Linked DNA regions of Homo sapiens: region 2 is linked to region 1. Evidence: fine-mapped expression QTL. A gene starts in region 1. The other region holds a variant in brackets. All regions are shown on one strand. Distances are between the middles of the regions. Region 1 holds the start of NCAPD3 (non-SMC condensin II complex subunit D3). Region 2 holds the start of SNORD153 (small nucleolar RNA, C/D box 153).

Region 1 (10,244 bases):
AATAACCTAAACATAGCAGGAACTAAATATGGTTTATCCTTGAGTATCGTAACAAAAAAAGGCCCACAAAATTCAAGTGAGCAGAGCACTCTCCTTTCCTTAACTAAAAAACTTACGGGAGAAATCATCTCCACTGGGCACAATGGCTCATGCCTGTAATCCCAGCACTTTGAGAGGCCAGGGCAGGAGGACTGCTTGAGCCCAGGAGTTTGAGAACAGCCAGGGCAACAAAGCAAGACCTTGTCTCCACAAAAAATAAAAAATTAGCTGGGCGTGGTGGCACACACCTGTAGTCCCAGCTACTCAGGAGGGTGAGGTGGGAGGCTCATGTGAGCCCAATAAGTTGAGGCTGCAGTAAGCTTTGACTGTGCCACTGCATTCCAGCCTGGGTGACAGAGCAAGACCCTGGTCTCAAAAAAAAAAAAGGGGGGGGGGGGAAGAAATCATCTCCTAACTTTACAGTGTCACATCCTCATTCCTAATGCCACCTGCACCTCCACTTCACACACGAGGGTGATCGATCACCCTAAACCATCTGCTCACCAGGGCTCTGCATATGGGGTCACCTTGGCCCCATGTGATCCCATGGCTGCTGTCTAGTCTGGGCGTCAGTGACCCTGCACTCCCTACATGTGACTGCTCCTCTGCAGACCCCGTCCAATCAGCTCTCCATTTCTGTCCTGGCTGCTTCTCACCCTCGGTGATCTCATGCATCACTGTGCTTCAACCCATACCTCAATTTAAAGAACTCTCTTCTCTCTCCTGGTCTCACATTTCTACTACCTGTTAAACTTCCCAAGGATCTCCTGACAGAATCTCAAGTTCAGAAGTCTAAACAGAACTGTTTCTCCATTTGACCTTGCTCTTTTTCCCTTATTCCCCACCTTGGTTAACAATATCATCATCTTCCTAGTTTTGAAACCCTGGGGATCACTGACTTCTTTCTTTTTCTAATTCCCTATGCCCAGTCAGTTTAGCACTTCACACCATGTTTTTAAGATATCTCAAAAGGGCTTCCTAGTTCACAAGGCCCTATTAATTCTAATTCCAAAAATGTCCCTAGTTTTTAGTCTTCCTTTCCAGTTCCCAAAATTGTAACTCCGGATCATGCCATTATTACTCATAACACCTGGATCACCAATACAGTCTCCCAAGGGCTCTCCCTGCACACAATTTTTCCCACTTCAGTCCACCTACTGTCAAGAACGTCTGCTTAAAACAGATCTATTCATGTTACCTATCTATTGCCCACTGTAACCTCTTTCACACAGGCTGCTTGAGGATTAAATGAGTTAATACATGCAGGACGCTTAGAACAAAACCTCATACACACTCTACCAAACATGTTCAAACTCCACTGCTGAACCTCACGTAAAGCTACCCGTGACCTACCCTTACTCTACCTTACCATCCCGTTCCACCACACTTTTTCTGTATGCCTCTTGACACTTCCTGCGTGTTCCCATTGGGTGGCTCCTTCACTAGGACTGCCTTACAACCCAAGCTTCTGCTAGTCATCTGTGAAGATTCGCTGCTGGCCACTTTCTTTCTGGAACTTTCCCAACCCTACCATGCTCCCTTTTTCACACCCTATGCAACAAATCCGCACCTCTCTTGGAGCATTTTTCACAGTGTGGTTCGTAGAATATTTCCAGGCGCCCAAATGCACAGTGGCACTGAACTCTCCACCCCCTGCAACTGCATGTGGCTGCTAGACCTACTTTGGCTAGTGTTCAAATGTCCACTCTTCCTCCCTGAGGTCCCTGGGGAGGACCTCAACCTAGGGAGATTGTATCGTAATCCCCACTCTGTCAACTCAGGTACTTAAGGCAGTGCTTAGTGTTATGCTGAAGGAATGTTTAATTAGATGATTTAATTTTGTGATGTGAAACTTGGAAGTGAATTTTTTTTTGTTCATTTAAATGTTTCAGAGATGTTAATATCCAATTAGCTTTTGTTCTGTTTCCCAACCCTTTGGTTTTTTTTGAAAACTAACAACCTAAATATTAATAATAATTTATATTTCTATGCATTGGATAGAACTCAATATTTACAGGAACTGTTTGGACAAACCTGTTAATTCAACTAGTCATTCCTCAGTTTAATAATATCAGATTTTCTTTTTTTGTGAGACAGAGTCTTGCTCTGTCGCCCAGGCTGGAGTGCAGTGGCGTGATCTCGGCTCACTGTAACCTCCGCCTCCTGGGTTCAAGCAATTATCTGCCCCAGCCTCTCGAGTAGCTGGGATTACAGAAGCCCGCCACCACAACCGGCTAATTTTTGTATTTTTAGTAGAGATGGGGTTTCACCATCTTGGTCAGGCTGGTCTTGAACTCCTGACTTCGTGATCCACCCACCTCGGCCTCCCAAAGTACTGGGATTACAGGCATGAGCCACCATGCCTGGTCGCAGATTTTCTTAAAGTTAAGGTTAAGGCATGTCTGAATTGTTATTTGCATTTTCCTTGGTCTAGTTTTCTTGTTTTTGCCTTTATATTTTTCCTTTTTTTTTTTCCTTCTGAGATGGGGTTTTGCCATGTTGCCCAGGCTAGTCTCAAACTCCTGAGCTCAAGCAACTGGCCAGCCTCAGCCTCTCAAAGTGCTGGGATTACAGACGTAAGACACCACACCCGGCCTTATACTTTTCCTTTAATTTGCTATTGTAAAAAACAGTCGTGTCTTAAAAAAAAAAAATCAGACAAGTACCTTGAAGCTTTTGGAGGAAAGCTCTTAGGATATTCCAATAAATTAACCACATTCTTTATGTTACTCATATTGTACTCCCTGTGAACTGTACACCAAGAAAGCTAAGCTTCAGATTATAATAATGACTTTCATCTTCTACTTCTAACACCAAACTTTGGCTAGTTTGTTTTTATATTTTTACCTCCATAGATCCATGTTCTCCAGTAGCAAAGGGTAAAAGGCTTTCATAGAGTTTTGTGAATGCAGCCAATCCAGTCTCTATGATCTCTGCTTCTATGCTGGGATCCAAAGGCTCAGTCTCTGTGAAATCCAGTTCCCACACTGTGTCAACCCATTCTAGGGGAAAATGCAATGAAATGTGTAAGTACTCTGTAACAAGTAAAAAAACTAGTCACCTTTAGATTCCAGGTGTGTTCAAGAGGAGAAAAGTTTACTAGTCACGATTCACATTTAACTTGTTTTAATAACATAGGTGTAGCATAATAAAAGAAAACCAGAAAAGGTTAAGAGAATCTTAAATCACAACTGACACTGACTATTAAGCTAATCATCTTCTAAAAATATAAAGGAGGAAATACTTTTCAGATACAAGAGTTTTGGGAAAGGACACTTCAAAACATTCAGTGATCAGGCTTTCCCACATGTTCAATCTAGAGAAGAAACAGAGGTTAATCAGATTGCCCACGAGGTTCCTTTGTGAAAATATCATAACCAAGTTAATAAGTGGAAATAAAATATAGAGCACTTTATTGGGCCCTTGGACAATCATGTAGCATTTAAAAAACATATATAATTTCTCCAGGAAGTTTAAAATAGAAGAGGCAACCCAGATTCAGACTCCCAGGAATACTTGGTGACTTTAAAACACACTGATTGAAAGAATGTACATTGAGAGGAGGGGTATTAAGACAGCACGCTGGCTGGATTCCACCAATCTCTCTTAACTCTAAATCTTCCCATTCTTTTCTTTTTCTTTTTTTTTTGGATAAACTTTTTTTTTTAACTTAAAGTTTTTGGGTACATGTGCACAACATGCAGGTTTGTTACATAGGTATACACGTACCATGGTGGTTTGCTGTACCCATCAACCCGTCATCTACATTAGGTATTTCTCCTAATGGTATCCCTCCCCTATCCCTCCATCCCCCCTTCCCATTCTTTTCTAATACACTATATTTCTTCAGTGTTGTCATTGTCACTTTCCCAAACTAAAATTAGGACTAGATGGAAATGTGGACATCTCAAATTATTAATCAGGTGTTCCTTCAAATTAATATTAAAAGTATTTGTTCACCACTGATTTAGAGAAGTTGGGCAAGGTATAAATAAGGAAAAAACAGAGATGGGAGCATTACACTGCACTCGGCAAATGAAAATGAAAGGCCTTACACTCAACTAGTTCCATCCTTAGAATACAATCTGGTCATCATCTTTTGTCACTTGAACTTGACCCTGAAGGAGGGGGTCTCTGTACCCTAAGTGGCTATGCACAGCATTCCTTCCAAAGACATGGAATATGCTGCCTGAAAGAAGATCTGAAAAATACAATTGTTTCTTTCCAAATTTCCAGTAATGTTTTAAAGGTCATTATAGACCACAGCAAAAGTTATCTCACTCCTTCTTTTGGTTTTGCTTATGACAGTTCCCTACTGTAAATACCATCAAATCTAATTTGGATGGCAGTAACTGGCCCTGTTATCTACCATTTGGTCACAGAAGTCTTCAGTGTTGATTGTTGAGTGAGAGTATAGGAGACACTGAGTTAGTCTTTTTCCCTCAGTATCTTTACACTATTCAAATCTCTCACTACCTATTTTCTCAGCTGTCGAATGCAGGTAACTTCTGCTCTGCTACTTCACTTAGGATGGAAGAAGAGGAAGAAATACATCACCTATTCACTCAACAAACACTTTGAGAAAATACTAGGGAAGCCACTTATACTTCTAGGGATATAAAGATGAATACTAGAGGGTTCTTGTCCACAAAGATCTCAACATTTCACACTTAGGATACCAAAAAAAGCAGCCTATGATAGAAGAGAGGCCACTGAATTTTGAGTCAGAACGAGGCAAATATCCTGACTTGATCACTTACACATAATTAGTCTCTCCTTCATCATTGGAAATACAGGATTTTTGTGAAACATAATGTGTATAAAGGCCCTAACAATGTGCTAGCCACATAAAAAACAGTCAATAGATGGTATTTATTATTTTTGCTATGGATGAGTGTTAAAATAATAGATATGTAAAATGTAAAATGCTACAGAGCTTAATAGGGAATAGTACTGGGGGAGGAGGGAGAGGAATAAGATGATTCTTCAATTGGACCTGAATGTAAGAGTTTTGCCAGGCAAATAAATGCAGAAAAGTGCCTCCCAGCAAGCACAGTGTAACAAAGCACACAAAGGGAAAGAAATTAAAGTGTTTCTAAATGAACAAAATTGTTACAGTGTTTGCTTGTGGGTATTAGTATCTGTTCAGCAGTTATTATGTGGCAAGTACAAATTTATCTTTACAAAAACCCCTGTGAGGTAGATATTGTACTCCCCATTTGACAGATCAGAAAACAGGGGTTTAGCAAGGATAAACAACCTGCACGGTAATACATGGATGCTATGGGGTAGAGCCAAGGGAACAATCCAAGTGTGTCCGACTCCAAAGGTTATGCTCTTGGAAAATCAAACTGGAGAGAATGGCAGCTCTTATAAAGCATGCCAAGGATGTGGTCATTTATTTAGGAAACAAAGGGGAAACATTAAAGGTGTACAGGCTTGACACATTCAAAGCTGTGTTTTCAAAAGTCGTTCTGCAAAAGTGTGGGGGATGGGCTGGCACAGTTAACATCAGAAAGCAGCTAAAATACTCCTGCAATTGCTCGAGGCTATGATGAAGGCAGCAGCATCAGGAATGGAGCGGGGCTGCCCTGAGACACCTCAGAGGCAGGACAGTGGTAGTGGGCATGAAAGGGGAAGCAGAAATGCCATGACTCCTGGGTTGGTGGCTTGGATGGTGCCATTAGCAGGCTTTGGGAATCCCATTTTCACTCATGTGACGTTTGATGATGTCTGCATGTGAGACATCCAGTGGAACCTATGAACATGAAGTTCAAGAAATAAGTCTGGCGGAAGAAAGAGATTTGCAATTTAAAACCATCTTAATAGGTAAGAATAGATAGGTGCACGAAGACACGCACAGGAAGAAGGGGAAGGCCGAGAAAACAGATGCACAGGCGCTAGAAGAGACTGGCCAACATTCGCTTATTCTAAGGGTGGCCTGGCCGGCTTGAGCCCCCACGGGAAACCTGGCTAGCCGCAATCCTGGCGTGGCACGGCCCTGGGGACCCCAGGCACCGCCGACAGCCGGGCGCCCCCACCCCGCCCCCACCGGCACCCCGGCCCGGGCTTAGGCATCGTCGGGGACGCATAGGACCCTCGCCCTGGCCCCCGGGCCTCCCGGCTGCATCTGCTCACCGAGTCTAAGATCCAGCGGACACCAGGGCTGCAGGCCGCTACCAAGGCCCCGCAACGCCACCATGATCCCAGGGCACCGGCTCGCCGCCGCCGTGCTCAACTTTCAAAGCTCGCTCCCGCGCGCGCGCCGAGTCGTTCCTGTGGACCAATCACAACGTACAGAATTTCCCACTGGCCAACCACCGCGCCGAGCCGTTTCCATTCGCTCAACCAATCACCGGCGTCGTCCGCCGCACGCTCAGAGAACTGGGCGGGCCGAAAAGTGGAAGCCAAACAAGGCTCCTGCGGGTGTTCCGCTAATTCGTTCGAGAAGGAGCCAGGGCCTGAGTTAAACCCTAACAGCGTTTTTCCCGCCTCGTTTTTCTTCAATGGGGGAAAATCTAAAGGGTATCTGAGATAGGGTACTTCCGGTAGTAACTGTCACCTTTGCCCTCGTCAGGCGACATTTCGCGTGCGTGTCAAAGGGCTGCCTTTCCCGTCAGCACTCGAACAGCGTAATATCCGAATGTGAAAGGCAGCCCAACGTGTATCGAGCTAAAGTAATAAGGGAAAAGTAGCCGAAAGCACTCCGAGAAGACAAGACAACTGCAGTTCTGTAGGGACTGCGCGGCACGCGTGGGCCCAGAGCCTGTCCCAGCGAGGTAGCAGCTGCCATGCCGACCGCTGGAGCGCCGGCCGCGCTCTCCCTGCGCATGCGCAGCGAGCTCTCCTCCGGGCTGCCGGGAGTCCCAGGAGCGTTAGGGGGTGCGCCTGCGCGCCGCTGCTCCAGCGCATCCGGGCTGGAGCTCGCCCGCCCCCTCCCCCGCCCGGAGCCGCCGAAGCGCCTCGGTGCGTTGCACCGCCGGAGGCTGGGCAGCTCGCAGCGCTGCTCGGCGCTGGACCCCACCCGGCAGGCGCAGGCCACCCACACCCGGCTCTGTGCGGCTGCCCCCCGCAGCATTGCACGGCCGACCCTCGCCCGCCCACTGCCACCGGCCGCGGGACTGGCTGGGACTGGCTCGGCCGAGGGCACTGCTCCTCGGTGCATTGCTGCTCGGGCGCCGCAGCCCGCAGCCGCCAGCCTCCCCCGGCCGTGCCCCTCCCCCGTGGAGCCGGCTGTCCGTCGGCGCCCACTGCCCGGCGGCAGCGGCGGAGCCAGGCAGCCCCGCGGCGGCCGAGCGCGCTCGCGCATCGGGCCCTCTGGCCTTCTTTACCTAGGGCAGCCCGCGCCCCGGTGCGAGGGAGCGGTCCTTACCGAGACCCGCCCGGCCCGGCGGTGCGATGAGCTTCTTCGGCTTCGGGCAGAGCGTGGAGGTGGAAATCCTTCTGAACGATGCAGAGAGTAGGAAGCGGGCCGAGCACAAGACGGAGGACGGGAAGAAGGAGAAATATTTCCTCTTCTACGACGGGGAGACGGTCTCCGGGAAGGTGAGCCTTGCCCTCAAGAACCCCAACAAGCGGCTGGAGCACCAGGGCATCAAGATCGAGTTCATCGGGCAGATCGGTGAGTCGACCCCCGGGACCCCCTCCCCCAGCGCCGACAGCCGGCCGGGGAGCAGGGTGATTCAGGGCCCAGCTCCTCCGGCGAGGCCTGTCACAGTCGCTTGTCAACTGCAGTCTGAGGCCTGGGGTTCAGCTACAAGTCCCGCCCGTGGGCGACTCCCCCTGCGTTACTGTCCTCCCTGCCAAAAGTGACAGCGCGCTGCCAGGGAGATGGGGACGGCGAGGGCGGGAGGAAGCGCCCTGCTGTGCCTCGTGGGATGGGCACCTTGCCTATGGGTTCTCCCCATTGTCTCCGGCATGCACTCGGCTTTGCTTCTTGTCCCCAGGATTTCTGGGTGAGGTGCTCTGGCCATAGCCTGCAGGTGGGTTTGTTAGGGGGAGACCGCTCTGCCAATACTGGCTTTCCCATCGCCCGGCCATCTGCAACTGCCAGACGCAAAGTGAGGCTCGTCCACCGAGCCCCACTTCCCAGAGCCCGCACCAACCCGTTTTTCTCTTTAGATGTGGTGTGAGAGAGCTAACCAGTTCTCTCTTACCTCACCTCAGCCCTGAACTACCTATGCTTGTACATGTTTCCAGAAAGAAGACCCATAATCTTCAGTCTAAATCTGACTACCTAGGCTGCGTTTCTTAGACTTCTTTATTAGAATGCAAGTTTTCAGTTACCACATTTTCTGTTTAAAGACAAAGAAATGGTGTTTCTAAAAACCACAATTAAGTGATCAGAGTTTCTCAATGCTTTAAACATGATTATTAATCATTGGAACTAGACAGCGCCAGGCACAGTGGCTGATGCCTACAATCCCAGCACTTTGAGAGGCTGAAGTGGGAGGATTGCTTGAGGCCAGGAGTTGGAGACCAGCCTGGGCAATATAGCAAGACCTGCCTCTACCCCCAAAAATTTTTTTGTAATTAGCTGGTCGTGGTGGTGCTTGCCGGTAGTCCTAGCTCCTCGGGGGGCTAAGATGGGAGGATTGTTTGAACCCAGGAGTTCCAGGCAGCAGTGAGCTGTGATAACACCACAGCACTCCAGCCTGGGTGACAACCAGCAAGACCCTGTCTCAAAAAAATAAACAAATAAACAAATAAGAACTAGACAGTAAAAGGCAGTAATGGTAAAGTGATTTGGGGAGCTCCCAGTCAAGACTGGGTCGTCTCCAATTCTAAGCCTTATTTAGACTCTTGTGTATTATTAAAATGCTTGGGTACTTTTAAAATAAGTTGTTTTTGTCGTTAGGTTAGGAGTAGAATCACAGTAAATACCCTGTGAGCTACACACCTCTGGTAGAGAATCCATACCGATACCACACACTGCATACATAACTCTGTTTTTAGAGACTTCCTTGGGGAATCTTTGTTAAACTCTCTTATCCTGAGAGTTTAGCAAAGAATTTGCCGTCTTTTTTTCACAGAGGCAGGAAACACGGAGACACAGGTAGGAGAAACCCTGGGAAAAGGAGGCCTTGTGGCCTGGCTCTTGGGTTCACTGCTCAGCCTCAAGCATTTTGCCTCTGGTATTTAAGAACATGAAATCAGGTTGAAGACTGGCTGATCTTACAGGAAGCTCTTTGTTGTTATTTTAAAGCCAGAATATGAAAGGTCTTAGTGTACCAGAAAAGGGGCCGAAGAGTGAGTTCCATGCCTTCTGCTTTCCTGCTTCTGGGTTCAATGGTGGGGTAGATGGCAAGGTTCCTCAGTAGCAGCACTGTGATGTCTGGCATCGTTTGGCATGTTGTCATGGGATGTTTAGCAGCATTCCCAGCCTCTACTGACCAGACAACAGTAGCATCCCCCACTTGCGACCACAAAAATGTCTTCAGATATTGCTGTATATCCTCTGGAGGGTAAAATCATCTCTAGCAAAGAACCCCAGGATAAACAGGATGAGTCCAAAGCATATTATGCTACGCATAGTAAATAGTCGAGAAATCCTTGCCTATTGAGCAAGGTATTTTTTAGTAGCAGTTTTAAAGTTATTGCATTGATTCTTTGGCTCCATAATAATAATTAGTGTTGGCAGGCATGTTTAGTCTGTGTCTATACCATCACTCCCAGATGGTGGTACCTTACCAGTATGTGAAAGATAACCCAGAATGTCTTCTGCCCCAGACAGTGTGAAATTAGCTGTTCTAGGAACCGTGTCAAGGCCTTCCTCTGGTCTAAATGAAAGGGAGTTGAAGAAACTGCTTGCTGTTCCTGCCCCACCTGATTTCTTGTCTATCTCCTTACTCCTGAGACATCCATCATCCCTGCTGAATTTTCTCAGAACCTTTTGTTGCTTCCACTAGTAACTCTTCCCGGGCCCTTGGCCACCCTGCACTGAGTTGACCATGAGACTGGGGGAATTTAGCCACTCTCTGGGCCTCGGCTTTCTCAGCTACCAAGCAAGGAAAATAACATCACTTGGTGAGAATGTTGGGCATGCCAGGGGATCATGCATGACCCTTATAGAGGGTTCCTTTATAAAATTATGGTAGTTGTAGTAAAATGTTTCCATTTCACAAATTGAGTTATCACCCACTGGCTTGCTGCTCTTCCTCCTGTACCTGTTTTACCTGAAGAAGATCGCCCTGTCTACTGATAAG
Region 2 (10,761 bases), 71 kb before region 1:
CAGGCATGAGCCACTGTGCCCAGCCAGGAGCATTTTTTGAATCCTTCCCTCCTCCCTATTTGGAGCTCTCCTCAGAGCAGCATTTTCCAAAACTGCCTGGTGATACCCATTTGGGACCACTGTTTCACATACAGATTCGAGCCCACCTCAGACATATGCTAGAAATGTCTGTGTGTGAGACAAGCGTTCCGAAGGATTCTTCTCATGTGTCACGTTTGAGAAACTCTGCTCTAGGGTTGTTTTCTCCTGCAGTTTTGCCCCAGACCTACTTTAGCCTATTGACTTTTTAGTGATGAAACTTGGGAATTGACATTTTAACATCAAAATTGCATGCCAGGCGTGGTGGCTCACACTATAATCCTAGCACTCTGGGAGGCTGAGGCGGGTGGATCACCTGAGGTCAGGAGTTCAAGACCAGCCTGGCCAACATGCCAAAACTCTGTGTCTACTAAAAATACAAAAATTAGCCTGGTGTGGTGGCAGGCGCCTGTAGTCCCAGTAACTTGGGAGGCTGAGGCAGAAGGATCCCTTGAACCCGGGAGGCGGAGCTTGCAGTGAGCCGAGATTGCACCACAGAACTCCAGCCTGGGTGACGGTGACGGAGCAAGACTCTGTCTCAAAAAAAAAAAAAAAAAAACGATTGCAAGTTTACTTTTTGTTTTTGAGATGGAGTCTCGCTCTGTCACCCAGGCTGGAGTGCAGTGGCACAATCTCGGCTCACTGCAAGCTCCGCCTCCCGGGTTCACACCTTTCTCCTGCCTCAGCCTCCTGAGTAGCTGGGACTACAGGCACCTGCCAACACGCTCAGCCAATTTTTTGTGTTTCTAGTAGAGACGGGGTTTCACCACCTTAGCCAGGATGGTCTCGAATCTCTGACCTCGTGATCTGCCCACCTCGGCCTCCCAAAGTGCTGGGATTACAGGCGTGAGCCACCGCGCCCGGCCTGCAAGTTGATTTTTAAGTGTACATTCATCTTTGAGAACCAATACACTAGGATAAAGGAGATTTTTTTAAAACTTCCAAGTTACTTGGCTCTTGTTGATAAATTCCCTGCATAGTTTTCCATGTGTCGCTTGCTTGAAGGAACGGCTGCCAGAGCCCCATATGAAAGTGACCCAGTGCCTTTGCCCAGTGTATAGACATGAGAAAAGGGTTCCAGGGGGTTTCCTCTCAGAGGGCTTATAGATCGGAGGTCAGGCAGCCGGCAGAGACAAAGCTCTAGTTCTTACCTAGGATTCTTTACTTGTTTGTTTTTTGAGACAGATTCTTTAAGGCTTGAAGCTACCTTTCTTCCCCGCAGCAATCTGCAACAAAGGGAGGCCCTGGAAATTAGGGATTCTTTTCTTCTTGGGATCCTGGCTCCTAATCTTGTCCTCATAACCATTTCCTCCATAAGTAATCTCAGGCATTCAGCCAGAGGATTTTTAAGCCTACAGTGCCAAGCCCACTTTAATACACTTTTCAGTGCGACTGCATTTCAACTGTAGAAGTCTCAGTACTTTTCACGTGTGAAGTTAGGAGTTATGGTGTCCTATATGTTCTAGGCTAGAAGGATTGTAAGTGTTCTCTCTTCTAGCTGGGGTAGGCCTGAGGGGGCAGGGGGCAAGTGGGTTTGGGGTGAAGGAAGGAGGCACAGCAGGGCCAGGGCCTTTTTAAATAACAGATAGTGTGTATCATGGCTTCCACCAAACCTCCTTTTCTTCAGATGACCTGAACATTGGCGGAATTATTGGGGGGGTTCTGGTTGTCCTTGCTGTACTGGCCCTGATCACGTTGGGCATCTGCTGTGCATACAGACGTGGCTACTTCATCAACAATAAACAGGATGGAGAAAGGTGAGCCTGCCTTATGTGAAAAAAGGGAAGTTCAAGCTGGCAATAATATAACAACCCTGTTGCTAAACTGCTCTCTTCTCCTCATAGTTACAAGAACCCAGGGAAACCAGATGGAGTTAACTACATCCGCACTGACGAGGAGGTAATCATTTAGTAAACCTGGAAACCTAGGTGTACCCAGCAGGGAAAACAACATTCCCCCTTGGAAACCACACGGGTCTCCTGGGAAGATTTCTGAGTGATTGTGCAGCTCCTGAGCTCCTCAGCCCCTTCACAGTAACACACACACACACACACACACACACACACACACACACACTAATGGGATTTGTGCTTTGCAAGCGCTAGTGATGGTACTTTTTAAGAATGATTATTCCATCTGTATTTAGCCCATGTTAGACTTACTCCGTGTTTTTCCCTGCTTGCCACCAGGCCCCTTGATGGCTCTAACTGTGTGTTGGCTTTGCAGGGCGACTTCAGACACAAGTCATCGTTTGTGATCTGAGACCCGCGGTGTGGCTGAGAGCGCACAGAGCGCACGTGCACATACCTCTGCTAGAAACTCCTGTCAAGGCAGCGAGAGCTGATGCACTCGGACAGAGCTAGACACTCATTCAGAAGCTTTTCGTTTTGGCCAAAGTTGACCACTACTCTTCTTACTCTAACAAGCCACATGAATAGAAGAATTTTCCTCAAGATGGACCCGGTAAATATAACCACAAGGAAGCGAAACTGGGTGCGTTCACTGAGTTGGGTTCCTAATCTGTTTCTGGCCTGATTCCCGCATGAGTATTAGGGTGATCTTAAAGAGTTTGCTCACGTAAACGCCCGTGCTGGGCCCTGTGAAGCCAGCATGTTCACCACTGGTCGTTCAGCAGCCACGACAGCACCATGTGAGATGGCGAGGTGGCTGGACAGCACCAGCAGCGCATCCCGGCGGGAACCCAGAAAAGGCTTCTTACACAGCAGCCTTACTTCATCGGCCCACAGACACCACCGCAGTTTCTTCTTAAAGGCTCTGCTGATCGGTGTTGCAGTGTCCATTGTGGAGAAGCTTTTTGGATCAGCATTTTGTAAAAACAACCAAAATCAGGAAGGTAAATTGGTTGCTGGAAGAGGGATCTTGCCTGAGGAACCCTGCTTGTCCAACAGGGTGTCAGGATTTAAGGAAAACCTTCGTCTTAGGCTAAGTCTGAAATGGTACTGAAATATGCTTTTCTATGGGTCTTGTTTATTTTATAAAATTTTACATCTAAATTTTTGCTAAGGATGTATTTTGATTATTGAAAAGAAAATTTCTATTTAAACTGTAAATATATTGTCATACAATGTTAAATAACCTATTTTTTTAAAAAAGTTCAACTTAAGGTAGAAGTTCCAAGCTACTAGTGTTAAATTGGAAAATATCAATAATTAAGAGTATTTTACCCAAGGAATCCTCTCATGGAAGTTTACTGTGATGTTCCTTTTCTCACACAAGTTTTAGCCTTTTTCACAAGGGAACTCATACTGTCTACACATCAGACCATAGTTGCTTAGGAAACCTTTAAAAATTCCAGTTAAGCAATGTTGAAATCAGTTTGCATCTCTTCAAAAGAAACCTCTCAGGTTAGCTTTGAACTGCCTCTTCCTGAGATGACTAGGACAGTCTGTACCCAGAGGCCACCCAGAAGCCCTCAGATGTACATACACAGATGCCAGTCAGCTCCTGGGGTTGCGCCAGGCGCCCCCGCTCTAGCTCACTGTTGCCTCGCTGTCTGCCAGGAGGCCCTGCCATCCTTGGGCCCTGGCAGTGGCTGTGTCCCAGTGAGCTTTACTCACGTGGCCCTTGCTTCATCCAGCACAGCTCTCAGGTGGGCACTGCAGGGACACTGGTGTCTTCCATGTAGCGTCCCAGCTTTGGGCTCCTGTAACAGACCTCTTTTTGGTTATGGATGGCTCACAAAATAGGGCCCCCAATGCTATTTTTTTTTTTTAAGTTTGTTTAATTATTTGTTAAGATTGTCTAAGGCCAAAGGCAATTGCGAAATCAAGTCTGTCAAGTACAATAACATTTTTAAAAGAAAATGGATCCCACTGTTCCTCTTTGCCACAGAGAAAGCACCCAGACGCCACAGGCTCTGTCGCATTTCAAAACAAACCATGATGGAGTGGCGGCCAGTCCAGCCTTTTAAAGAACGTCAGGTGGAGCAGCCAGGTGAAAGGCCTGGCGGGGAGGAAAGTGAAACGCCTGAATCAAAAGCAGTTTTCTAATTTTGACTTTAAATTTTTCATCCGCCGGAGACACTGCTCCCATTTGTGGGGGGACATTAGCAACATCACTCAGAAGCCTGTGTTCTTCAAGAGCAGGTGTTCTCAGCCTCACATGCCCTGCCGTGCTGGACTCAGGACTGAAGTGCTGTAAAGCAAGGAGCTGCTGAGAAGGAGCACTCCACTGTGTGCCTGGAGAATGGCTCTCACTACTCACCTTGTCTTTCAGCTTCCAGTGTCTTGGGTTTTTTATACTTTGACAGCTTTTTTTTAATTGCATACATGAGACTGTGTTGACTTTTTTTAGTTATGTGAAACACTTTGCCGCAGGCCGCCTGGCAGAGGCAGGAAATGCTCCAGCAGTGGCTCAGTGCTCCCTGGTGTCTGCTGCATGGCATCCTGGATGCTTAGCATGCAAGTTCCCTCCATCATTGCCACCTTGGTAGAGAGGGATGGCTCCCCACCCTCAGCGTTGGGGATTCACGCTCCAGCCTCCTTCTTGGTTGTCATAGTGATAGGGTAGCCTTATTGCCCCCTCTTCTTATACCCTAAAACCTTCTACACTAGTGCCATGGGAACCAGGTCTGAAAAAGTAGAGAGAAGTGAAAGTAGAGTCTGGGAAGTAGCTGCCTATAACTGAGACTAGACGGAAAAGGAATACTCGTGTATTTTAAGATATGAATGTGACTCAAGACTCGAGGCCGATACGAGGCTGTGATTCTGCCTTTGGATGGATGTTGCTGTACACAGATGCTACAGACTTGTACTAACACACCGTAATTTGGCATTTGTTTAACCTCATTTATAAAAGCTTCAAAAAAACCCAAACATTGCTTCATTCTTTGTTATTTGCTCTTACGTTGGGTTTGTCTCTTCTTCCTAGCATTTCAGTGGTTAGGCATGCACACTAAAAATGCTATCAATCACCCATCCACCAGGGAAGTCAGTGCTGGGCAGGAGGTCAGCCTGTGTGCTCAAGAGCAGTGCTGCGCCTCTCCGCCACCGAGCCCACCTGTGTTGCGGTTCCCACTTGGGATGGCAGTGGGCAGATCTCAGTGGCATCCCATCCCCCAAACCAACCAACGCACATCATCACTTTGTACTTTTGCTTTTGTAATACTGGGATTAAAAAACAAACCAACTGCATTTCTTTCTGGATATTGTTGAACAAAAATAGCATTCAGTTTACCCACTAGTGCTAACAGAAGAGACTCAAGCTGTTCCCCCATCATGGGAGCAGCCCTTAACAGAGGGCTGCACAAATCGGCAGTGCTGCTCTGGGGAAGGCTGCAAAGCCATTTTTTCCCAAGAAGGGATGCTGTTCATGTCTGTTAGGGAAAGCACACCGCCTCTGCCTGGGCACAGATGAACTGCCCTTCAAGACAATCATCTTTTTTCTAATAGGGAAGATTTGGTTTCATTCCTCTAACAAACAAACATGCTTTATGTAAAATTAAAATGATTACCAATAAGAGCTCTGTTCTAAAAACAGAAAAATCCTATTGACTACTGGAAGGCTGTATTTATGCTAAACCTTTATTACTTTTAGAAAGCTGTACACTTTTTTAAAAAATTTGCACTTATAAATAATAGAAAAAATATTAGAATCAAAATTTCGTCATTACAGATGGGAAAATATGTACTATAAGGAATTCAAGTTAACAGAGGCTTGATTTATATAAAAGAAAGCTGCAGTTTTAAAGTTGTGTTCCTTAAAGACCAGATTATAGCTTATCTGAATGGGCTTGACACTTTCAAATGGAATAAAGTTACAATATTAAACAGATTAGGGTAAGAAAATCTAAATCTGGCACATCTCTATTATTTGACAGTGTTTAACCAAATACATCATACAGAATAGAAGGTGAGTGCCAGGCCCCTGAGGAGGAGCTCTCGTGTTCCACAGCAAAGCGCTGCCCAAGGACTGCGGGAAGTGATCCAGCTGCCTTCACACGGAGGACACGAGACTGCTTCCTCAAGGGCTCCTGCCTGCCTGGACACTGGTGGGAGGCGCTGTTTAGTTGGCTGTTTTCAGAGGGGTCTTTCGGAGGGACCTCCTGCTGCAGGCTGGAGTGTCTTTATTCCTGGCGGGAGACCGCACATTCCACTGCTGAGGCTGTGGGGGCCTAGGGAAAGGACATGTGCAGTCATTCTGGAACTCAGAAAAACCCTGACAGAAACATCCACCTCAAAAGGAACACTGCTAAACTTACGGTTTATCAGGCAGTGATAAACATAAGATGTCATTTCCTTGACTCCGGCCTTCAATTTTCTCTAAAAGGGAGTCAAACAAACACATTCAGCTTTCCCAGAACCTCAAAGGCAGTGCATCTATCAGCCCAGAAGGACACCAAGAACTTGCCTTTGGCTGACGACGGAGTCCGTGGTGTCCCGATGTAACTGACCCCTGCTCCAAACGTGACATCACTGATGCTCTCTGCATAAAGAGGAGACACCACTGAGTGAAAGCCGCGTGGTCTATCGGAGGTCTCTGTTCTAGTTGTCCGTGGGACGTAGGCAGGGTGTCCACATCAGTGTCCCAGCGGCGGCCCTCAGACCTCCACTGGACCCTGTCCCAGGGCCTGGCAGTGTTGAGGGCCCCTCCTGGGGATGCTCCTTTCCGTCTCTCTGACCCCCTTCTCTGACCCGCAGCCCTCAGGCACTCGGCTGGCCCCTGGGCCTCACTGTTCACGCCTCTGGCTTCCCTCCCGCCGTCTTCCATCATTGCCCCTGTCCCGGTGACCGCCCTGTCCCACTTACTACACCTCCTACTGTGGCTCACCCAGATTCCCTGAGGACACTTCAACTCCTTGCCTCTGCACCTCCACGCGTGCCTGCTGGTTTCCAGCCAGTGACTGGAGCATGCGCGCTGGAAATATGGCACCGTGAGCAGCTCCTCCACATGGAATCAGCAGCCAAGTCCTGTCCCTTCTACCTCCAGTCGCCGCCTCATCCTGTCCCGTCGTGCCACACTGGGAGCGGCTCAGTCCACCTCCCCCCTCGCCCTTGATTGTTCATGGCACCTACCCGCAATGAA[C/A]CCCCTCCAGTTTGCCCTCAGGAACAGGAGAACACAGTTGAGCAGATTCCACCGCAGCTTGGGTGTGAATTCTGGCTCAGTGTCTCACCAGCTGTGTGAGCTGCTCTGAGACCCTCAGGTTTCTTCATCTCTTAAGTGGGTATAAAAACATAGCTACCTCATTGGGGGGCTGCCAGGACTACATGAGGTTATCCACGTTGAGTGCTTAGCATCGTGCTGGCTGCAAGGGCAGTGCTCAAGAGATGTTAGCAGCCACTGTCATTTATTAGCAGTATCATCCCTGCATCACTGGAGTTATGTTTCATCAAGAAGCTGGTAAATTTACTGCCCTGCTTCAAGACACCTCAATCGCTGTGTTCCTAGGAGAGCCTGAAGTCCACCCTCAGTCTCAGCTGGTCCCAAGCTGCCTTTACAGACTCACCTGTTAGGCTCAGGTGCACGCGTGCACAAACACGTCCACCCTCCTGCGTCCTCTTCCTCAGCAGGCCCTGTCTGCACATTATGCTTCTCTGCACCCCCCCCCCCACCGCCCCATCTGCCTACACATGCCACCCTGTCTTGGAGGCCCGGGTGGTGCAGCCTCACCCCTCCTGGGTGGTGCAGCCTCGCCCCTCCTGGGTGGTGCAGCCTCGCCCCTCCTGGGTGGTGCAGCCTCGCCCCTCCTGGGTGGTGCTGTACCCAGTGCATAAGCTGCCACCAGCACACTCCCGGGAACAGCACGGGCTGGGCAGCTGCTTGCTGGTACCACTGAACCTGCTGCCCTTCTGCAAGCACATGCGAGGAGGCAGCTTCAGAGCGCTCCCCGTTCTCCACTTGGTGTCTTGAGTATGGACTGTGTCTTCCCATTTACAGTTCAAAGCTCATCAGCGCACTGCAGCTGTGTACCCGATGGCTACTTGAGTGTCACTAATAGACGATGGTAGAGAATTCCTCATCACTGCTAGATCTGCTTATTCTGTTTCGGTGAAGTCTCTCCTTGTGCTGTCACATGAAATTCCCTTCCTGACACACACACTGCTCTTCCTGTTTGGAAGCCCATATGCACTCCAGGAAATTAGTCTCCCATCTTTACAGAAGCCCGGGTGCGGGGGCTCTGACGTCCCCCATGCACTGTGCGTAGAATCGAAGGCAGCAGCGTCTGTGCCACCCGAATGGTAACAGTAACAGGGACTTGCTAAAACCCCCACAGATTTTCAGTTAAAATCCTCGCTCTGAAAATTGACTAATTTTCATTTCCATTTAGCAAAGCCACTGTGAATTGGTGCTGAACTGGGTGGCATCTTTCCTGCCAGCTTTGAAGAGCTGAGACACTTCCTGACAGTCTCCCCCACCTAAACTAAAAGTTGCCAAAAAGAATCTGGACGTATAAACCACAGAGAAAACAGAACTGAGTGCTTTTAAACTATCTAACAGTTCTCCCAGGAAGGGGAGACCTCCAGGCATTTCTTCCTGGTTCAGTATAAAGAGAGACGGACAGAGACTGCATCAGCAGGAATATTATGTCCAAGAGCCTGGAGCAAGAACAAGTACTCTACCAACTCAATGACACCGGGCGCCTGATTTCCAGCACAAAGCGTGGCTCCACACAGGCAGATGAGGGCGGCATGAACCCTCCACGCCAGGCTGCCCTGTGGAGAAACACGAGCTGCTAGGAAACAACCCAACACTGACATCAGGGACTCAGGATGAGCACAACGAAAATGAGATGCGTTCTCCCCGTTTCTTCAGCATATGGCACCTCACTGCCAAAATAGAAGCTCTTGGCACTCCTGAGCCAGGAACATCGAACACACAGCAAGCTCTAACACACAGAACATCGCACCTGTCCACGACGCAGGATCCCAAATTACCCACTGCCTTTAATGACAAATGCCGTCATGATTCGGTTGTCGTCTGAGGGTGGGGGTGGGATAAACTCCCTTCAAAGGGGGACCTGGATGAAAATTACCTCTAACCTGTTAACTATTCTAAGAGATCACAGCATCAGTGTGACAGAACCAAACAAGCAAGTAGCTAGAATACAGCAGGTGCTCCACACACATGAGCTGACTGAAGCAGTGACTAAACGAACGGCAGGACACCTTGCTGCTCTGTTACCAGGAAGAGCACCTTAGCACGCTCTCATCTTCCCCTGCAGTCAGGACTAGGAGACAGGCTGGAGAAGGGGCACAAGAGTTGGGACCAGAAGGCCTGGGCTCAGCGCCCAGCTCTGCCCTCCCAGAAGTCTCCGGGAGGAGATCTCTGACACCTCCCAGGTTCCAGGCACTGTGGTCTGTGGAAACAGTGAGGAGTGGAATGGCCAGGGACGAGCGGGGCTGGATGCAGCTTGCTGAGGGCACTGTGCACAGCCGGGCGCAGAGCGAGGGGCACACAGGGACACGGCGGCAGGGCCTAGCCACTACTCCACAGATTTAGGACAGGAAGCATTTCTTCTTCCTGTAAGAGTTTTCTCAAAATAATGGTTTTTATGAGGTTTGACACAATATGAAGCTATCACACAAGATAATAGGAAAAGAATACTCAACTCTCCTAACTCACCTCTGTTTTGAAATCAAAGGAAAAGCACAAACAGTAGGAAAAAACATGGAGGGGAATGAGACACAGGCTCCGAGCAGGGGTCCCCGGGTCTCTGGTCTTGGCAGTTGCAGAGCGTGCATGGTACCTGCTGGTGCTGACGTCTGCCCGCCCTGGGAGCAGGCCCACCCAGCAGCGCCCAGTGCACCCGGACAGCCCAGAGACACGGAGGGCCGCCTCCAGAAGGCACCACTGGGTCAGTCACCCAACCTACCTGTGCCTCAACGGCATTGTCTGCTCCGCGGGCCACTGTGGTGTTTGACTGACTGAATGTAACGACACTGGAACAACATACTCGGTCAGTGCTCATGGATCAAGCGACCGTGGTCACTGTGAAATACTCCACCTCAGCAATGCACTCATGGTTCTGACCATCAGAACTATCCTGCACCGGAAGGAGTTTTACTGCGACTCTAGCAAACACATCACGAATGCAGGAGAGACTGAGGAGAAGCCCACGTGTTCCGATCAGTTACTCACTCTCGGGGGTGCTGATGGCCCGCTTGGTCACGTGCTCAATCTCGCCATTCGACTCTTGCTCCAAACTGTATGAAGACACTAGAACAGAAAAGGTGCTGCTATCCAGAAATACCCCCAAACAATAACGAAGAGCAAAACAACCACATGAGAAAACATATCTGCAAGACGTAAAGTCAAAATCACTAGTGTTTACAATTTTCTTATAAAGAGGCAATTCAGGAAGAAATACAAATAAATGATAAACATGAGAAAAAATGTCCATTCTCATTAGGATTCAAAAAAATAAAAGAGTCTAACTTGGCATAAGTGATAGAGGACAGTTTGACACTATCCAAAGTTTTTAAATATCCATGGCCTTTGACTGCTGGGAATTAATCCCAAGGATTACATACATACAAGGCTATATGTACAAGGATGTTTACTGTGATAGTATTTGTATGGAAAAATTGAAAATCAACATTTCAAAGAACAGGATAGTAATAAATCAGTTATTTCCACAGCCACAATGCTATAAAGCCACTGAAAGCAAAGGTTGGAAAGAAAAGTTCATGGAAGCTGTCTACTACATCTACTACATCTGACTTA

What was found.
Region 2: its variant is fine-mapped to the expression of NCAPD3 in whole blood (TOPMed, PIP 0.98).

The regions. Positions count from the first base shown.
Region 1 is chr11:134,217,686-134,227,929 of GRCh38, forward strand. It overlaps NCAPD3 (non-SMC condensin II complex subunit D3), which reads right to left and starts at 6,282. Exons shown (of 35, transcript NM_015261.3): 1 at 6,178-6,282; 2 at 2,887-3,041. The coding sequence starts at 6,241. It overlaps VPS26B (VPS26 retromer complex component B), which reads left to right and starts at 6,986. Exons shown (of 6, transcript NM_052875.5): 1 at 6,986-7,660. The coding sequence starts at 7,438. RefSeq lists enhancers at 6,723-6,772, 7,563-7,622, 7,723-7,872 and a silencer at 6,893-7,362.
Region 2 is chr11:134,146,842-134,157,602 of GRCh38, forward strand. JAM3 (junctional adhesion molecule 3) reads left to right here. Exons shown (of 9, transcript NM_032801.5): 7 at 1,706-1,835; 8 at 1,923-1,977; 9 at 2,305-5,160. The coding sequence ends at 2,340. It overlaps NCAPD3 (non-SMC condensin II complex subunit D3), which reads right to left. Exons shown (of 35, transcript NM_015261.3): 32 at 10,177-10,254; 33 at 6,448-6,522; 34 at 6,299-6,359; 35 at 3,272-6,211. The coding sequence ends at 6,103. It overlaps SNORD153 (small nucleolar RNA, C/D box 153), which reads right to left and starts at 4,522; the gene lies at 4,447-4,522. The variant C/A (reference allele first, on the strand shown) is at 7,123.